Linked DNA regions of Homo sapiens: all the other regions are linked to region 2. Evidence: fine-mapped expression QTL. A gene starts in region 2. Each other region holds a variant in brackets. All regions are shown on one strand. Distances are between the middles of the regions. Region 1 holds the start of LOC105372853 (a long non-coding RNA gene). Region 2 holds the start of MICAL3 (microtubule associated monooxygenase, calponin and LIM domain containing 3). Region 3 overlaps MICAL3 (microtubule associated monooxygenase, calponin and LIM domain containing 3).

What was found.
Region 1: its variant is fine-mapped to the expression of MICAL3 in esophagus muscle (GTEx, PIP above 0.99).
Region 3: its variant is fine-mapped to the expression of MICAL3 in whole blood (TOPMed, PIP above 0.99). The same link has a PIP of 0.9 or more in blood mononuclear cells.

Annotation. Positions count from the first base shown.
Region 1 is chr22:18,054,786-18,060,007 of GRCh38, reverse strand. LOC105372853 (a long non-coding RNA gene) reads right to left here and starts at 4,049. Exons shown (of 6, transcript XR_001755424.2): 1 at 3,891-4,049. The variant A/G (reference allele first, on the strand shown) is at 2,197.
Region 2 is chr22:18,022,587-18,027,808 of GRCh38, reverse strand. MICAL3 (microtubule associated monooxygenase, calponin and LIM domain containing 3) reads left to right here and starts at 3,248. Exons shown (of 32, transcript NM_015241.3): 1 at 3,248-3,528. RefSeq lists a silencer at 3,111-3,520.
Region 3 is chr22:17,999,881-18,005,102 of GRCh38, reverse strand. The region is part of intron 1 of MICAL3 (microtubule associated monooxygenase, calponin and LIM domain containing 3); the gene reads left to right. Among named protein-coding and RNA genes, the nearest start is that of MIR648, 22 kb to the right of the region's middle. RefSeq lists an enhancer at 2,916-3,612 and silencers at 3,548-3,927, 3,938-4,127, 4,258-4,367. The variant T/A (reference allele first, on the strand shown) is at 2,409.

The sequences.
Region 1 (5,222 bases), 32 kb before region 2:
GCAGATCACGAAGTCAGGAGATCAAGACCATCCTGGCTAACACAGTAAAACCCCGTCTCTCCTAAAAATACAAAAAATTAGCCAGGCTTGGTGGCGGGTGCCTGTAGTCCCAGCTACACGGGAGGCTGAGGCAGGAGAATGGTGTGAACCTGGGAGACGGAGCTTGCAGTGAGCCAACATCACACCACTGCGCTCCAGCCTGGGTGACAGAGCAAGACTCTATCTCCAAAAAAAAAAAAAAGGTTAAGATGGTTAATTTTGTGTTACATATATTCTACCACATTTTTTTAAAGCCCTAGGAGAAACCTCCCACATCCTTGACCTCATGTCACATGACCTTCATCTCCACTCATTTTTCAGCTCCATTCTGAAGGCTACACCCTGGTCCCAGCCATCATCAGAAACTATTTTATCTTCCACTCTCTGATCTCAACATCCTATCTTTCCAACTTTCTCACTCCTTTTCTTCCTTCTGTAACAATGGTCCTATCTGCTTGCATCATTGAAACTCTTGACCAATCTACCGTCTCCTAGTCAGGCCACCTCCATTCCTCCCAAAATTGCTGCAACAGTCTTGCTGGTCTTCCTGACCAGCGTCCTGCCCACTCCAGTTCATCCTCAACATCGCATTAGGAGTGACATCTCTGACATTTCAATCCGATCTTAACACTCCCTATTTAAAACCTCTCAGAGGCTCTCTATTGACCTCAAGATAAAGTCCAAACTCCCTAACAAGGCAGACAAGCTGGGCGTGGGGTGGCTTCTGGTTGACATGCCTCCCTTCTCCCCTGTCCTCCTGCATGGGCAACGTGTAACCTTTAACTTTACCAGCAGGTCTTGCAGTGTACTGAGCTTTCACTTTGCTTCTGGGTGCTAGGGTCCTCCCCAACCCATTCCTTCTTCATTTGGCTAACTTCTATCACTCAAGCCTGGGTTGGCGAGCACTTCTAAGAAGTTTCCTTCTGTCCTCACCAGGCTGGATCTGGGGCCCCCAGGTGAGGTCCTGCAGCACCTATGCCTGGCCAGATCAGAGGGCTCACCGCTCTGCACTGTAATGACCTGTTTCCTTCTCTCTCCACCCTGACCAGACTGTCATCTGCCTTCCCACATAGCCAGGCACTGTGTGAGATTCATCGTGGCATCGCCATGCCTGTTACAGTGCCTACCACAGAGTAGACATTCTCTGAGAGGCAAGTGGGTGGGTGGACAGGAGGTTGTTCGAATGCGTGGACTACACAGGTTTTGAAATTCAAACCTGGGAATCAAGTTCCATCAAGAATTTTTAGCTGGAAACACATTTGATCAAGGATGGTTTATCCAAATTAAGAATAGTTTCTGTCTTTGTATAGCACTCAACAGTTTATGGCCCGCTGTCATATTTGTGATGCTGTTTAACACACTTAATGACCTGTGAGTTAAGAAGGAAAGCTATCATCATTACCACATTGTAAATGAGGCCCCTATGTTCACCCAAGGTCAGAGAGTTAGTGAATGTCAGAGCCAGGACACATGCTCAACATCTTCCTTCCACTTGCTCTACCCTCTACCCCACTGCATTTAACTTTTAGGAATAAAAACAATCAGAATAGCTAATCCTAATATCAGAACCTTTCAGAAAACAGGGAATATATATTTTCTGGCTTCTGTGGGGTTCTACCAAGGTCCTAGTTCTCAGGTACTTAGAAAATATTAACTAGCTCCACTGCAGCAAAGCTATCATTGATGTGCCTTGCTTTTTCACATTTTTTAGAAAAAGAAACAAAAACAAGTACCCCGAAAGATCAGTGTCTAACAACATATGGAAATAATGCCTTATATCCACCCTACATCTCTGCAGTTGCAAATCAAGCCCAATTTCTTTTATTTGGTTTTCAGTAGAGAGAAATAAATAAAGCAGGAATATCATTTCTATCCCATCTACATCCAAAAAGGCATAAAAGAGAAGAGTTTATCACTATTCCTCATATAAATAACCTCTTCCATCTGCCTGCTGTAGTCTAATTTAAGTAGTCCTAATTGTATTCGCATAGGACCTATTTTCCAAGTATTCATTTTATTTGTTCTTATATGGACTGTATCCAATTGTTCCCAGTCTCTTTTACCTTTAAAGCCAAAACTGGACATGAGTCACCAGTAAGTTTCTAGTTAAAGCCAAGAACAGTGAGAGGATGACGTCATGGGCCTTGAGCCTTGCTC[A/G]TGATGCTCATTTGAGTGTGTCTCAGGCATATGCAACTACACTGTGTGTCCCCAGAACAAGGCGAGCACTGTGGGGGCTCAGGGCTGCTGCTTCTGCCCAGGGGGAAGTACAGAAAGAGCATCTAGACTACAAAAAGCTCTTCCTCTTTCTCCACATATGCACCCCATAGTCACTTTGGTCTCTATCTGGATCCGTTAAGCACCCATAACCACCTTTTGCAAAAGTGAACCTAGGCTGGGAGAGGTGGTTCGTGCTTGTAATCCCAGCACTTTGAAAGGCCAAGGCAGGAGGATCACTTGAGGCCAGGAGTTCAAGACCAGCCTGGGCAACAAAGCAAGACCCTGTCTCTATAAAAAATTTTTTTAAAGTAACCAGGCATGATGACCCACACCTGTAGCCCCAGCTCCTCAGGAGGCTAAGGTGGGAGAATCACTTGAGCCTGGGAATTCAGGGCCGCAGTGAGCTATTATCATGACACTGCCTGGGTGACAAAGCGAGACCCTGTCTCAAAAAAAAAAAAAAAAAAAGAAGAAGTTGAGGGGCACCAAAGACACAGTCGGCACAGTGCTGCCTTTGCTTGGGTGTCGCCTCTTTATGCCTCCTTGAGCCCACAGCCTTTCCCCGACTGCAGGAACAGATTTCAGCCCACCCACGGTCTCTCCTTGCCTGCAGGGTCCCCATTCTCCTCACCTGACAGAGCCTAGCTTAATGGGTCCCCGAAGAAGAGATTCTCTTGCTGGGCCAGCAGGTTCCTACCCGAGCTGTGCATCTTAGTTTCACTGTGAGTCACCGTGGGACCGCAGGCAAGGTCAGATGCCCCCAAAGGTAGTCAGGTGTCAGTCCACAGGTCTGTGGGGGTGGTCTGTACTAGTTTCCCTGTGATGGGAGGGCTGGAGGGAGGCCTGGCATCAGGAAGCACATGACTGGCACAAAGGGGAAAGGAATACCAAGTTCCATTTTCCTCTGCAAGGCCACAAGACACTGCTAAGAAAAATTATCACAGAGTGCTTAGCTGGAGCCGGTGTTGTCTATTTTCTTATAATATTAATTACTGCCTTGGTAACTATAAGTTACAAACTGCTTGATTTTAAAAGAGCTCACAGATGAAAGCTAAAAGAAGAAAAACAGAGGAATTTGAAATCCCACACAGCTAAGAGCAACAGATAAAAGCTGCCCCCCTGCAAATGCAAATCTAGATGAAGAGAAAGTAAACAAGATAATGCCAGCTAGGGTTGTTCAAGGAAACAAGAGAGTGTTCTATAAATATAACCAGAAAAAAAAATATTTGTCTCAGCAGATGAGATCACCACACATGGCTCATGATAGAGATCTTTTGTTGCTCCCTTAATTGAAGCTTGGAAGAGAGCAGAAATGACAGCAGAAATCAGACTACTGCCCACAAGGTTCCAATGGGCTGGTCCATGTTTAACTAAGTGCAGCTGAAGTCATGAAGACTTGATACCATCCATCTGAACTGTGGCCTGTGTCTCACTGACATATGGGCCCCGCCCTTCCCATCCACCCCCTTCCTCAGCACCAGACTGGCTATGGCTCACCCACACTGAGCAAATCAGGGGCAAAGCCAGGAAGGGACACACAGCCACGGGCTGAACGCAAGCCTAGGGGCAGGGAAAGGCCGAACAAAGCCCCAGCCTCCACTTTTCAAGGACTTCCTTTTCTGAAGGCTACTCACCGTGTGGGACAGGAGCTGGAGCAGAGCTGGAGACCTCCACCCATAGCCAGTGCCTGCTGCATGCCACATGAGCTCTAGGCATTGGGAATACGGCAGTAAACAAGACAAGTCCCCAGCTCTGGGAGCTAGAGATGAAAGGCTTCGGGGGTGGTTGGAGATAGACAACAGAAATGACGACTAGCCAAGATAATTTATGTACTGATAAGTGTACACTGAACACAAAATGCAGATAGAGGCCGGGCATAGTGGCTCATGCCTGTAATCCCAGACCTTTGAGAGGCCGAGGAGGGAGGATCCATTGAGGCCTGGAGTTTGAGGCTATCATGGAAGGAGGCGGAGCTTGCAGTGAGCTATGATCACACCACTGCACTCTAGCCTGGGTGATAGAGTGAGACCCTGTCTCAAAAACAAAACAAAATGAAACTGCAGCTAGAGAGTGATGTGGGGCTCCTTTAGCCCACAAGGTTAGGGCAGGCCTGTCTGAGCAGGTGTCAAAGTTGCAGCCTGAAAGGTGAGGGGGCTGCTAGGTAGCATGGACCATTGAGTGGAAGGGCTCAGAGTCAGAAAAGAGCTTGGTGTGTTCAGGGGACAAAAAGAAGGCCCATAGGACAGTGCCACGGCGACCAACGGAGAGGAGGGAAAAGAGCGGCAAACGCCGGCAGGGTCAGCTCTGTCACTGCAGGCCACCAGAAAGGGTTTGGATTCTGTTGGGTTTTTTAAGGGGAAGAGTCCTGTGATGTGGCATCTACTTTAGAAAGGCCATTCTTGGGCTGCTTTGTACAGGATGGGCTAGAGGGGGCCAAGAACGGCGATAGGAAGAATAGGTAGGGGTTTTGGTACATGGAAGAGAGGAGGGTGGCCTAGATCTGGGGGGAGGAAGTGGAGGTAGTTAGCAGTGGGAAATGCATTTTGAATGTAAAAAAAATGGAGCAGACTGGCCGGGCGCGGTGGCTCACGCCTGTAATCCCAACACTTTGGGAGGCCGAGGTGGGCAGATCACAAGGGCAGGAGATTGAGACCATCCTGGCTAATATGGTGAAACCCTGTCTCTACTAAAAATACAAAAAATTAGCTGGGCATGGTGGCGGGCGCCTGTAGTCCCAGCTACTCGGGAGGCTGAGGTGGGAGAATGGCGTGAACCCGGAAGGCGGAGCTTGCAGCGAGCCGTGATTGTGCCACTGCACTCCAGCCTGGGTGACAGAGCAAGACTCTGTCTTGAAAAAAAAAAAAAAAGAAGAGGACTTACTAATGGATTCATTGTGAGATGTTAGAGAAAAGCAAAGCAAAGAGTTCAGGGTGAGGTTTTCGTCCTGAGCAACAGGGTAGAGTGGT
Region 2 (5,222 bases):
TCGGCCTCCCAAAGTGCTAGGATTACAGGCATGAGCCACCGCACCCAGCCAAAGTCACTAATACAAAGTATTAGTCTTATACTCACTTTAATGCAATAGGTGCTAAACACTGTTTTCAGTATTCAGAAATTCACTCAATAAGAGAATTTATAAAAGATCTATTGCCACGTTGAATCCACTCCTATTAATTTTCCAACAGCCTTTAGCCCTAAATTTATTCAAGAGTAAAAAACCTTTTGGCCTGATCTGATTTTAGAAGGTACATTTTAAAATAGTCAAAAGGACTAGATTCCCTCCCATCACACTTAACTTTCTCAGTGGGGAAAAAAACAAACGCTGAAAAGGTTTAAAGAGATTCTAGAGTTGACATTGAGCCCCCAGCCCTCACCTTCTGCCCTCTTTGCTATCTTCTCTCAAGGAAGAAGAAAGCAGCATTAGGTTTCATTTCATCTTGGAGAACCATCAGCGAGATCACACAGCCTTATTGCCAACCTTTGACAGTTCTATTACTCTAGTTGCTTTTCCTGAGAGGTCTCCCCTACCCCACCCATCAAAGCCTAACCCTCTCTGACAAGTTTTTCAATTTACCCAATCATCCCATCAGCAGTAAATGCTGAGATTAAAACGTGAGGATCAGAGGGACAGGGCAGCTTTTCTATAGCAGGACTGAGGCTGAGGCCATCAGCAGGGTCAGTATCAAGTGAGCTCCAAGCTCCGGCATCCCTGGCTTAACCCAGGGCCTTGGAAAGCTCACCCCTTTCTCTTATTTTCTCTCCCTATTCTTACTTATTGAGGATTTTAAAATAGTAAAGGAGATACTGCGTTTTTCTGAGTAAATCAAAATAATCAACCAAAAAGCTACAAAGAACTAACCCTAGTTTCCCAAAGAGTTTGTGAGCTAAATAATTTAAATGCTATATACCAGGTGAGGGCACAACAGATGTGTGGAGGGCAGTGGAGTGGGACCGTGCAGGTCCTGTGGGGAACGGGGCTGGGTGAGTTGGATATCCCCATTGGAGAGGATTGGAAAGTCTTTAAAATGTTAATACCCTTGGACTCAATATTCCACTTCTGGGACTCACCTGGAAGGAAATTATTCACACATAGGAGCAAGATTTATGAAGAAAAAATTTTATTGCCATTATTTACAATCAATAAAAGTTGGAAATATTCAATAAAAGGGAAATTATGAGATATTCATATGATAAAAATATTGTATGACATTTAAATTAATGTTTTTTAAAAATCCTCAAAGGAGGAAGAATTTCCCACAAAGTTATTTTTAACAAAAAGCAGGATGCACTTGTGTGTCTGTGTGTGTGTGTGTGTGGTTTTATCTCAACTTAGTTTAAAGCTAGAAAGCTAGAAAAAAGACTGGAAAGAAATATGAATATTACTAATGGCTTTCTCTAGGTGATGAGATTATGAATGCTTTTCTTCCTTTATGTTTCTATATTTTTCAGTTTTTCTAAAATAAACGTTTTCGCCTAGTGCAGTGGCTCATGCCTGTTATCCCAGCACTTTGGGAGGCTGATGAGGGCAGATCGCTTGAGCTCAGGAGTTTGAGACCAGCCTGGGCCATGTGGCAAAACCCCATCTCCACAAAAATTAGCTGGGTATGGTGGTGCATGCCTGTAGTCCCAGCTATGCAGGAGGCTGAGGCAGGAGAATCGCTTGAACTTGGGAGGCAGAGGTTGCAGTGAGCTGAAATTGCACCACTGCCCTCCAGCCTGGGCAATAGAGCAAGATCCTGACTCAAAAAAAAAAAAAAAACTCCAGCGTCAAAAATAAAATAAAATGAGAAGTAGGAGAAATTATTAGAGATTCTGGACCTTTTAGGGCATTTTTCCCTAATATCCACTCAGGCCGTGCCCAGATGGCCTTGCACCTTCAGCTGTGGCATCAAACAAAACTGGGAATTGCAGCTTTACCACTTATCTCGCTGCATAAGCTTCCACAAGCAAGTTACTTACTGTTTGTGCTTTTAGGTTCTTAATATGTAAAACAATGTTTTACATTAAAAATTAAATGAAATAGCTCCTGAAAAGCCCAGTCACATTGTCAGAGCTCAGTAAAAATGTGTTCCCTTATTCTAGTACTGGGGCAGAACACCTGCAGGTTTGTAGGTGGGGAGACAGTGGACAGAGTGGCTGGGTGATGAAGTGGGGCTCTAGAGGATGAGCAGAGATTGCCTCTGAGCCGACACCCTGGCCCTGTCAGTTCCCGTCCTCACATGATGGACATGAAGGGAACACGAATGAAGCAGATGATGATACGGTTAAGTAAATACCACCTGGGACCAGAGAGAGCCCTTCTCAAGGAGTCGCCAGCCCAGAGTCGGCCCTCTTCTGAGCTGGCCGGCTGGAGTCAATCTGCTTTGGACAACACAGCTTCAGATGGAGATAATACTGAGGCCAATGATCCTTGAAGACAAAATAATCTCTGGGCTTCTTTCTGCTCTGATTATAATGTTGCAATTATACTGAGCAGATGCTGATAGGAATTTGGTCAAATCCATCCCGTCTTCCATCTAACTTATTTTAGTGCCTGGTGGATTTCTGTCCAGCTCCACGGGCTGTGGCAATGCCGGGGCTGGCTGGAAGTGTGGAAGGGGCTGGCTGGAAGTGTGGAAGAGGCTGCCCGGGCTCCGGCATCAAGAGGTTTTCTCCGGTGGGGAGGAGTGCGCGATCTGATCCTTGGAGCGCTTGCAACTGTAGCCCTCCCCCAGGGCTCTGCGCTGATCTCCAGGGTCATCATCATAGTAACAGTAAGAACTTCATTTTATAGCATTTTTCAATCTGTAAGACAACGTCGTGTCCTTTATACCGTTGAAATTTCAATTTCACGACTACTCAGATGTTACGCGACTTGCTCAGTATCCAACACTTGGTTCCTTCACTGGCTCCCGGAGACCTGGGTGCTGAAGCCACTGCAAGGAGGTGTGTGCTCGAACACACAGCGAACACCGACTGCGTGGTTAGCAGGATTCGCTGGGGAAGAGGCCTCAGGAGAGTGCTGGAATTTCCAACCTTCGAGGTGCTAGTAACGTGTGTCGAGGAAGGGGTTGGAGAAGGGGAGAAAATGAAAAGAAGGGGAGAAAATGAAAAGATGGGGAGGAGGAGAAATGGTTTGGGTTTGGTTTTGGCTTGAGCCTCACCCAAGCGTCCCACGCCGCAGCTCCGCGGCCTCCTGGGGGCGCCCGCTCGCGTTGCCACGGCGCTCGCGCGGAGCCGCAGCCCGCCCAGCCAGCAGCGCGCGCTCCTGCAGCCCCGGCGGAGTCCCGGCGGGGAGCGCCCGCGTAGGCAGGCACCCGGGGCAGCCCTCCGTCCTCGCCGCGCGGCCTGAGAACCCCTGGGCCCTGGGCGAGGGGGCTGGGCTGTGCAGCCCCCGAGGCTAACTGGGCGGGATCGCAGCTGCAGGGGTTGTGCGAGCAGCCACGGCGGCACCTGTGCCCTGCGGGCACCCACCCTGCCCCTGCCGAGGCAGGCGCCCACCGCCGGCGGTGATGCGGCTGTGAAGCCCTAGTCGGTGAGTACCCTCCAGTCCCCCTGTGGGCGAGCGAATCTAAATGACAAGGTTATGTGTTTTGCTGGATGTCTTCTAAGAATCATTTATTTAGATTGCTTATGGTGGGGAAGCGTTTCCTTTGTGACATCTTTGTGTTTCTCGGATCTATTTCGTTTCCCTCTAAACGCAGCCCTCTCTCCCCTAGTGGGAAAGACACCCAGTATCCGTGTCTCGATCATCGCACGACACCCACCAGTGCGGATGCCACGTACCACACACTCCCCAGAGCCTGCCAGAGAGCAGGGCTGTCTCCCAGCCACGTCCACCCCATTTTCATTGTGCTTCTATCCCGCAGGCAAAGGAAGAGCGTACCCAGGCACCCCCGAGGTAGGCCAGGTGTCAGGACAGCCAGCAGGCCCTTGGCGAAGCCGGGTCCGCTCTGGCTAGCTCAGCGCGGTGAACCCATGAGCTCATTAGGAGCAGCGGCTGCTTTGCGCGGGGAACGCCGGTTTCCCTGCGGCAGAGGGGCCCTGCACCCGCCCGCGGCGCGCGGTGGTGGCCCAGGACCAGTGGCGCACACGCTTGCGCTCCCAGGCTGCAGGGCGCGCTGCGCCGGCGCAGCTCCCGGGCGTGTGCAACAAAAGGACGGCCAAGTTCATTCCCTCCTGGAAGCAGAGGGCGGGGCCGCATGACTTCTGGAGGCTGCATGTGTCTTAGAATCAAATGGTTATGACTCCATAGCAAAATGCTTTCTGTGTGTCAAGTCCTCTCCGTGCCTGCCAACCCCTTCCCTCCTCTCTCCTCCCTAAAATGCTTTCTTATTGGTCTGGCACTGTGATCAACTATTTAGAATTTTCATTGTAAAGAAATGAAAAAAGGGTGAAACCGAGACAAGCTGTAGGCTGAAAGGCTGGGCCCTGTGGTGCTATTCATTAGCTCTCAGGCCTGGCTGCTGGGGAGATTTTTAGAAATCCTGCTACCTGGGTCCAATCCCTGGAGATTCTGACTTAATTGGTCTGGGATATGGCCCAAACACTGGGATTTTTTAAATTTTCTTTTTGTGGGGAGGAGTGGTGGTGGGAAAATTTGGAGTGCATACTGGATTTTTTTTTTTTAACTTCCCAGGTGATTCTAATGAGCTAAGATGGCCACCCACCATTCTAATCAATCAGGGTGACATTTTTCCAGGTGAACTTGGTAATAGTTCAGTCTCTCAGGCTGCCGTTGGAGGGCAGGGTATGCAACTGTCATAAATGCCTACAAGCTACAGGCAAAGAGAGCTGGCAGGGCCTTGGGCTGCTCCAAGAAGCTCAGGATGAAGGCAGTGTCTCAAACGAGGGAGGGATCATCACTCTCGGAACAGGTCCCTTCACTAAATGAAGTGTTCTGATCTATATTCCAGGGCAAGGGGAAAGCAGATGCATACCTTTGCAAGTCTGTAGCATGAAAGCTGTGGCTCCCTGTACATTTGTGGACTTCATGGCTGCCTATGTACTAACCAGAGTCACATGTGTATATCCCCCCACCACCCACTCACTACAAGGAGAATGGACACTTAGAAAGCAGAAGAGGGGGCTGGGCGCAGAGGCTCAGGCCTGTAATCCCAGCACTTTGGGAGCCCGAGGTAGGCAGATCACTTGGGGCCAGGAGTTGGAGACCAGCCTGGCCAACATAGTGAAACTCAGTCTCTACTAAAAATACAAAAATTAACCAGG
Region 3 (5,222 bases), 23 kb after region 2:
AATTAGCCAAGCGTGGTGGCACGAGCCTGTAATCTCAGCTACTTGGGAGGCTGAGGCATGAGAATCGCTTGAAATCAGGAGGCAGAGGTTGCAGTGAGCCGAGATTGCGCCACTGTACTCCAGCCTGGGTGACAGAGTGTGACTCTGCCTCAAAAAAAATAAAAAAAAACAAAATAAAAATAAAAATAAATAAGTAAATATATGAGATTATCTTTCATCTGGCATGCAGTAGATTCTTAAGAAACTCAAGACAGTATTGCGTTGTGGAGTTATGGTGGGGGCACTAGATGTCAGACCTCTGTGTGCACTCGGGCAGATCAGTTTCACTAAGCTCTTGTGTTTTCCTCAGGAAGGCAAAACGGTACTAAGGCGAATAATAAGGAACATCACAGAATTGATATGAGGGTGAAGTTAAATAATGCGGGCAAAGCACTTCCCAACAGTACCTAGCACATAGTGAGCACTTAATAAATGTAAGCTGTGGCTGCTGCTGCTGTGGCCATCAGGGAGATAGGGAAATATGTCAATAAGAAATGTATATTGGCCGGGCACGGCGGCTCATGCCTATAATCCCAGCACTTTGGGAGGCCGAGGCGGGTGGATCACCTGAGGTTGGGATTTCAAGACCAGCCTGACCAACATGGAGAAACCCCGTCCCTACTAAAAATACAAAATTAGCTGGGCGTGTTGGCGCATGCCTGTAATCCCAGCTACTCGGGAGGCTGAGGCAGGAGAATCGCTTGAACCCAGGAGGCGGAGTTTGTGGTGAGCCGAGATCATGCACTCCAGCCTGGGCAACAAGAACGAAACTCAGTCTCAAAAGAAAAAGAAAAAAAAAAAAAAGAAATGTATATTGGGGCAGAGAGCATGGACAGTTGGGTTATGGCAAGGCACAGAGTAGAAATGGAAGCTCTGTAAGCTAGCAGCTTCTGGCAATCAATCTGGAAGGCTTCATGGAGGGATGCACTTTCCAGAGCTCTTTGGATTATAGTTGGAAGATGAGTTATCTGGAGGTATTAGAAAGGCTATCCCAGGGGCCAGGCGCAGTGGCTCATGCCTGTAATCCCAGCACTCTGGGAGGCCGAGGCAGGCACATCACAGGGTCAGGAGATCGAGACCATCCTGGCCAACATGGCGAAACCCTGTCTCTACTAAAAATACAAAAATTAGCCAGGTGTGGTGGCAGGTATCTGTGGTCCCAGCTACTTGGGAGGCTGAGGCAGGAGAATCAGTTGAACCCGGGAGGCGGAGGTTGCAGTGAGCTGAGATGGCACCACCGCACTCCAGACTTGCAACACAGCGAGACTCCATCTTAAAAAAAAAAAAATAAAGAAAGGGTATCCCAGACTCCCTGCGTGATTGGAAGCTGGTTGAGTGGCAGTGGGGTGACCAGCTGTTGGGAGGTTGAAAAGTTCTGAACTAAAGAAGATGGAGCTGAAGCTTGGTAGCCAAATTGTAAGCCTAGCAGGCTGGTGTAAAGCTCTAAAACAGAGCAGACCCCAAGGAGTGGTTAGAAAGTCTGAAATTTGGCTTGTAGTGTGGATGAAAGCACAATTGGCCATGTGTGGTTGAATGGTTGTCACAGATTGAGTTAGGGACGAGCACTTTCGCAGCTCTAGGGAGGGGTGAGCAGTGGGGTTTGTTGCTGAAGGCAGGAATTGTGGACAGCTCATTGGGTGAATGAATTATTAATCGAAGTTTTGTCTGATTATGAGAAGGAAGGGAGAAGGAAGAGAAAGGGGTGCTTCCTGGAGAAGTAGAAATTATGAACTACTTGGAGGTGGAGGGCCCCACACATAAGAAGAATATTCTTCTCTAAGAGATGAGGGACCCAGAAAGAAGACAGGATTCATCTTTACCAAAGGTGGGGTTGATACTGTCGCTGAAAGTAGGTGTCAGAAAGTCTATCGACTTTCAACTAAAGTTCTTTTTTTTTTTTTTTTGAGATGGAGTCTTGCTCTGTTGCCCAGGCTGGAGTGCAGTGGTGCAATCTTGGCTCACTGAAAGCTCCGCCTCCCGAGTTCACACCATTATCCTGCCTCAGCCTCCTGAGTAGCTGGGACTACAGGCGCCCACCACCACGCCCAGCTAATTTTGTTTTTGTATCTTTAGTAGAGATGGGGTTTCACCGTGTTATCCAGGATGGTCTGGATCTCCTGACCTCGTGATCTGCCTGCCTTGGCCTCCCAAAGTGCTGGGATTATAGGCGTGAGCCACCGCGCCCAGCCTAAAGTTCTTTAAGATAGTGGATAATGCTCAAAGTTGAAGAATATTTGCAGGTATTGCTATTCCTGTGCAAAGGATGATAGGATCACACATGAAGTGTGTGAAGGCCATCAGACACCAAGTGCATTCCAGTATCCTCATTGGACCAGATGATGAAACTGAGGCCGAGGGTTGTACTTACC[T/A]GCTCAAGGTCATACAAGATATATTTGGTTCAATTCGCTCTATATTTTCGTTTTCTTTTTTTTAGACAGAGGCTCACTCTGTTGTCCAGGCTGGAGTGCAATGGCACGATCTGGGCTCAGTTCAACCTCCGCCTCCTGGGTTCAAGCGATTCTCCTGCCTCAGCCTCCTAAGTAGCTGAGATTACAGACGCGCGCCACCATGCCTGGCTATTTTTTGTATTTTTAGTAGAGACGGGGTTTCACCATGTTGGTAAGGCCGGCCTCGAGCTCCTGACCTTGTGATCTGCTCGCCTCGGCCTCCCTCCCAAAGTGCTGGGATTACAGGCGTGTGCCACCGCGCCCGCCCTCTGCTCTATATTTTCTCTTAGCGCCCTCCTCCAAAAATTTGAAATTCCCCCTAACCTCTTTGCTTCCCAACTAGAATGAAAATCCTAGTTTCATTTTGCGGCAACTAAGAGCAACAAACAAGTCTCCTTTATTATTATTTTTTCTTTCTTTAGATGGAGTCTCGCTCTGTTGCCCAGGCTGTAGTGCAGTGGCACCATCTCGGCTCACTGCAACTTCCGCCTCCCGGGTTCAAGTGATTCTCCTGCCTCAGCCTCCAGAGTAGCTGGGACTACAGGCCCGTGCAACCACGCCCGGCTAATTTTTGTATTTTCAGTAGAGTCAGGGTTTCATCATGTTGGCCCGGCTGGTCTTGAACTCTTGACCTCAAGTGATCCGCATGCCTCGGCTCCCCAAAGTGTTGGGATTACAGGCGTTAGCCACCGCGCCCGGCCAACAAGTCCCCTTTAAATACATCCTCTCTTCTCTCCGGGGGCAGGCTTTGATATGCCCACCGGGTTTCTCCATTGGCCACTTCATGTGGCTTCTCGCCCCTTCCAAGATTCCCAACCAATCAGTTCTTTCCCGTCTCCCGTTGGGCTTTGAGGAATGTACCATATGGATCCTGCAGGGGGACGGAGAGGACGAAGGGCGTGGCGACAGCTTATTTCTTTGCCTTTTGCACATATCCCGTGAGATTCTGGCAAGACTGAGCGTGCAAGTAGCAATGGAGTCCCTGAGGACGGGGGCCGCTTGCCAGTTTTCGAGGTGTACTGAGATATCTCGCCCCCGAGGCTGGGGTCCCGTGGTCCGGCCCGAGGGCCACAACCCCCGCCCTTCCATGTGCCCGCCCATCCCCCGGCTGCGCCGCTTCTCCGGCTGCTACCTACCGCGCCGGACGCTCGGGCTGCGGAACAGGGCGGCACTGGCCCGCCACAGCGACGCCGGCGCCGAGGGACACCGCAGTATGAGGCAGAGGTAAGAACGGGGCTTCGGGACTCCGACCCGCGCCAACCGTCCCCGGGGAGCCGCATCCTGCTCGCGCCCGAGCTCGGGGTCTCGGGCACCGGGCTGGTTCCGGCGGGCGGTTCTGGAGCGGGTGGCCCCGCGAGCGGACGCGCGCCGAGCCTCCCGCCCGGGCAGTGCCGAAGCCGGGAGCCGCCGCGGCGCGGGCGCCTCCTTCCGGCTGCGCTTATAACCCTGCGTCCGGCCGGCGGGGCGCGAGGAAGCCCCCGCCTCGCGTTCCCGTGTGGTCACCTCCCGCCGGAGGATGCGTGGCCAGGTGCGCCGGCTGGTCCTGAGTTCCGGGGCAGCAGGCGCGGGGAAGCGCGGGGAGGCTGCCCGCTTCAGGCGGGAGGCGGAGGGTGGGGGCTTAGCCCGGCTCTGGGTGCGGGGTCGGGGGGTGCTTTTTGGGGCGGGGGAGGTCTCTGTCTTTACCGGAGTCCGCAGGCTCCGGGCCGAGGCTCCGCCGGGTCCTGCCTCCGCGGCCTGGCCCTCGGGGCCTCCCCGTCCCGCTGCCCCGGCCTGGAGCTAGCGTGCGCCAAGCGTGGGCTCCTGCGACCCTGGCAGGTAGGTGGCCGAGAGGACCCCGGCGCGCCTTTCCGTTTGTGGGGGCGGTGGGCGCGGCCGGGCGATCGCAGCCGCCTTCGCCTCTAGTCTCAGTGATGCCCCTTCCCTGGCTGCCTTCCGAGGGGACCGCGCTTTTGGAGGTCTCCGGGGCACATGGGAAATTCCCAGCTAAGAAACCATCTTGAGGAGCCCTACACGGAACCGGGCTTGCCTGGCCTAGCAGAAAGCCAGCCGCAGCGAGACCCTCCGCCTGGCATGCGGCACTGGTGAGCCGCCACCCCGCTTGCTCAGTAGGTAGCCGGGACGAAGGGGTCTGGCAGGCCCCTCAGGCAAGGCCTCTGTGCCGCATCCCGTTAAGGGGCGGGGACCAGCCCCGTATCTTGGCTGGTCTTCCTGACTCTGAATGCAGAGAAAGTATGTCCAAGAGTTCAAACCACATTTGTGTTCTTTTAATGGTGTTTAATGCAGATGTTAATTGTGATTTATGTGAAACGGGTTGATGTAGAGGAATGAAGGTCAACTGTGGACAGGTGGACAGCTTTTTTTTTTTTTTTCCCCCTAAGCTTGTTTTTAGTGGGATGTGCATGGAGAGGATGACATTTGAATATCAGGCCACCAATGTGTATTTGGTCCCATCTGACACTTTGCTCCATAGACAGTCGTTGTACTCCAGGGATGAGGATGAACTGGGTTTTAAGCTGAGAAAGACATCTTCCTACAGTCGCTGCCGCCTGCGGGAAAGCCCCGCCTTCTGGTTACCTGGCCGCACACAGGCCAGTTCATTGTGGTTACCTTCTCCCGTGAGCACATCTCTGCAGCCCTCTCAGAGGATGCCGTTCATTCCATATTTGATTGCCAGATGTACTTCTCAGGTCAGAAATCCAGCCCCAGATTGTTCAAGTCTTATAGTGAGTTTTTCTT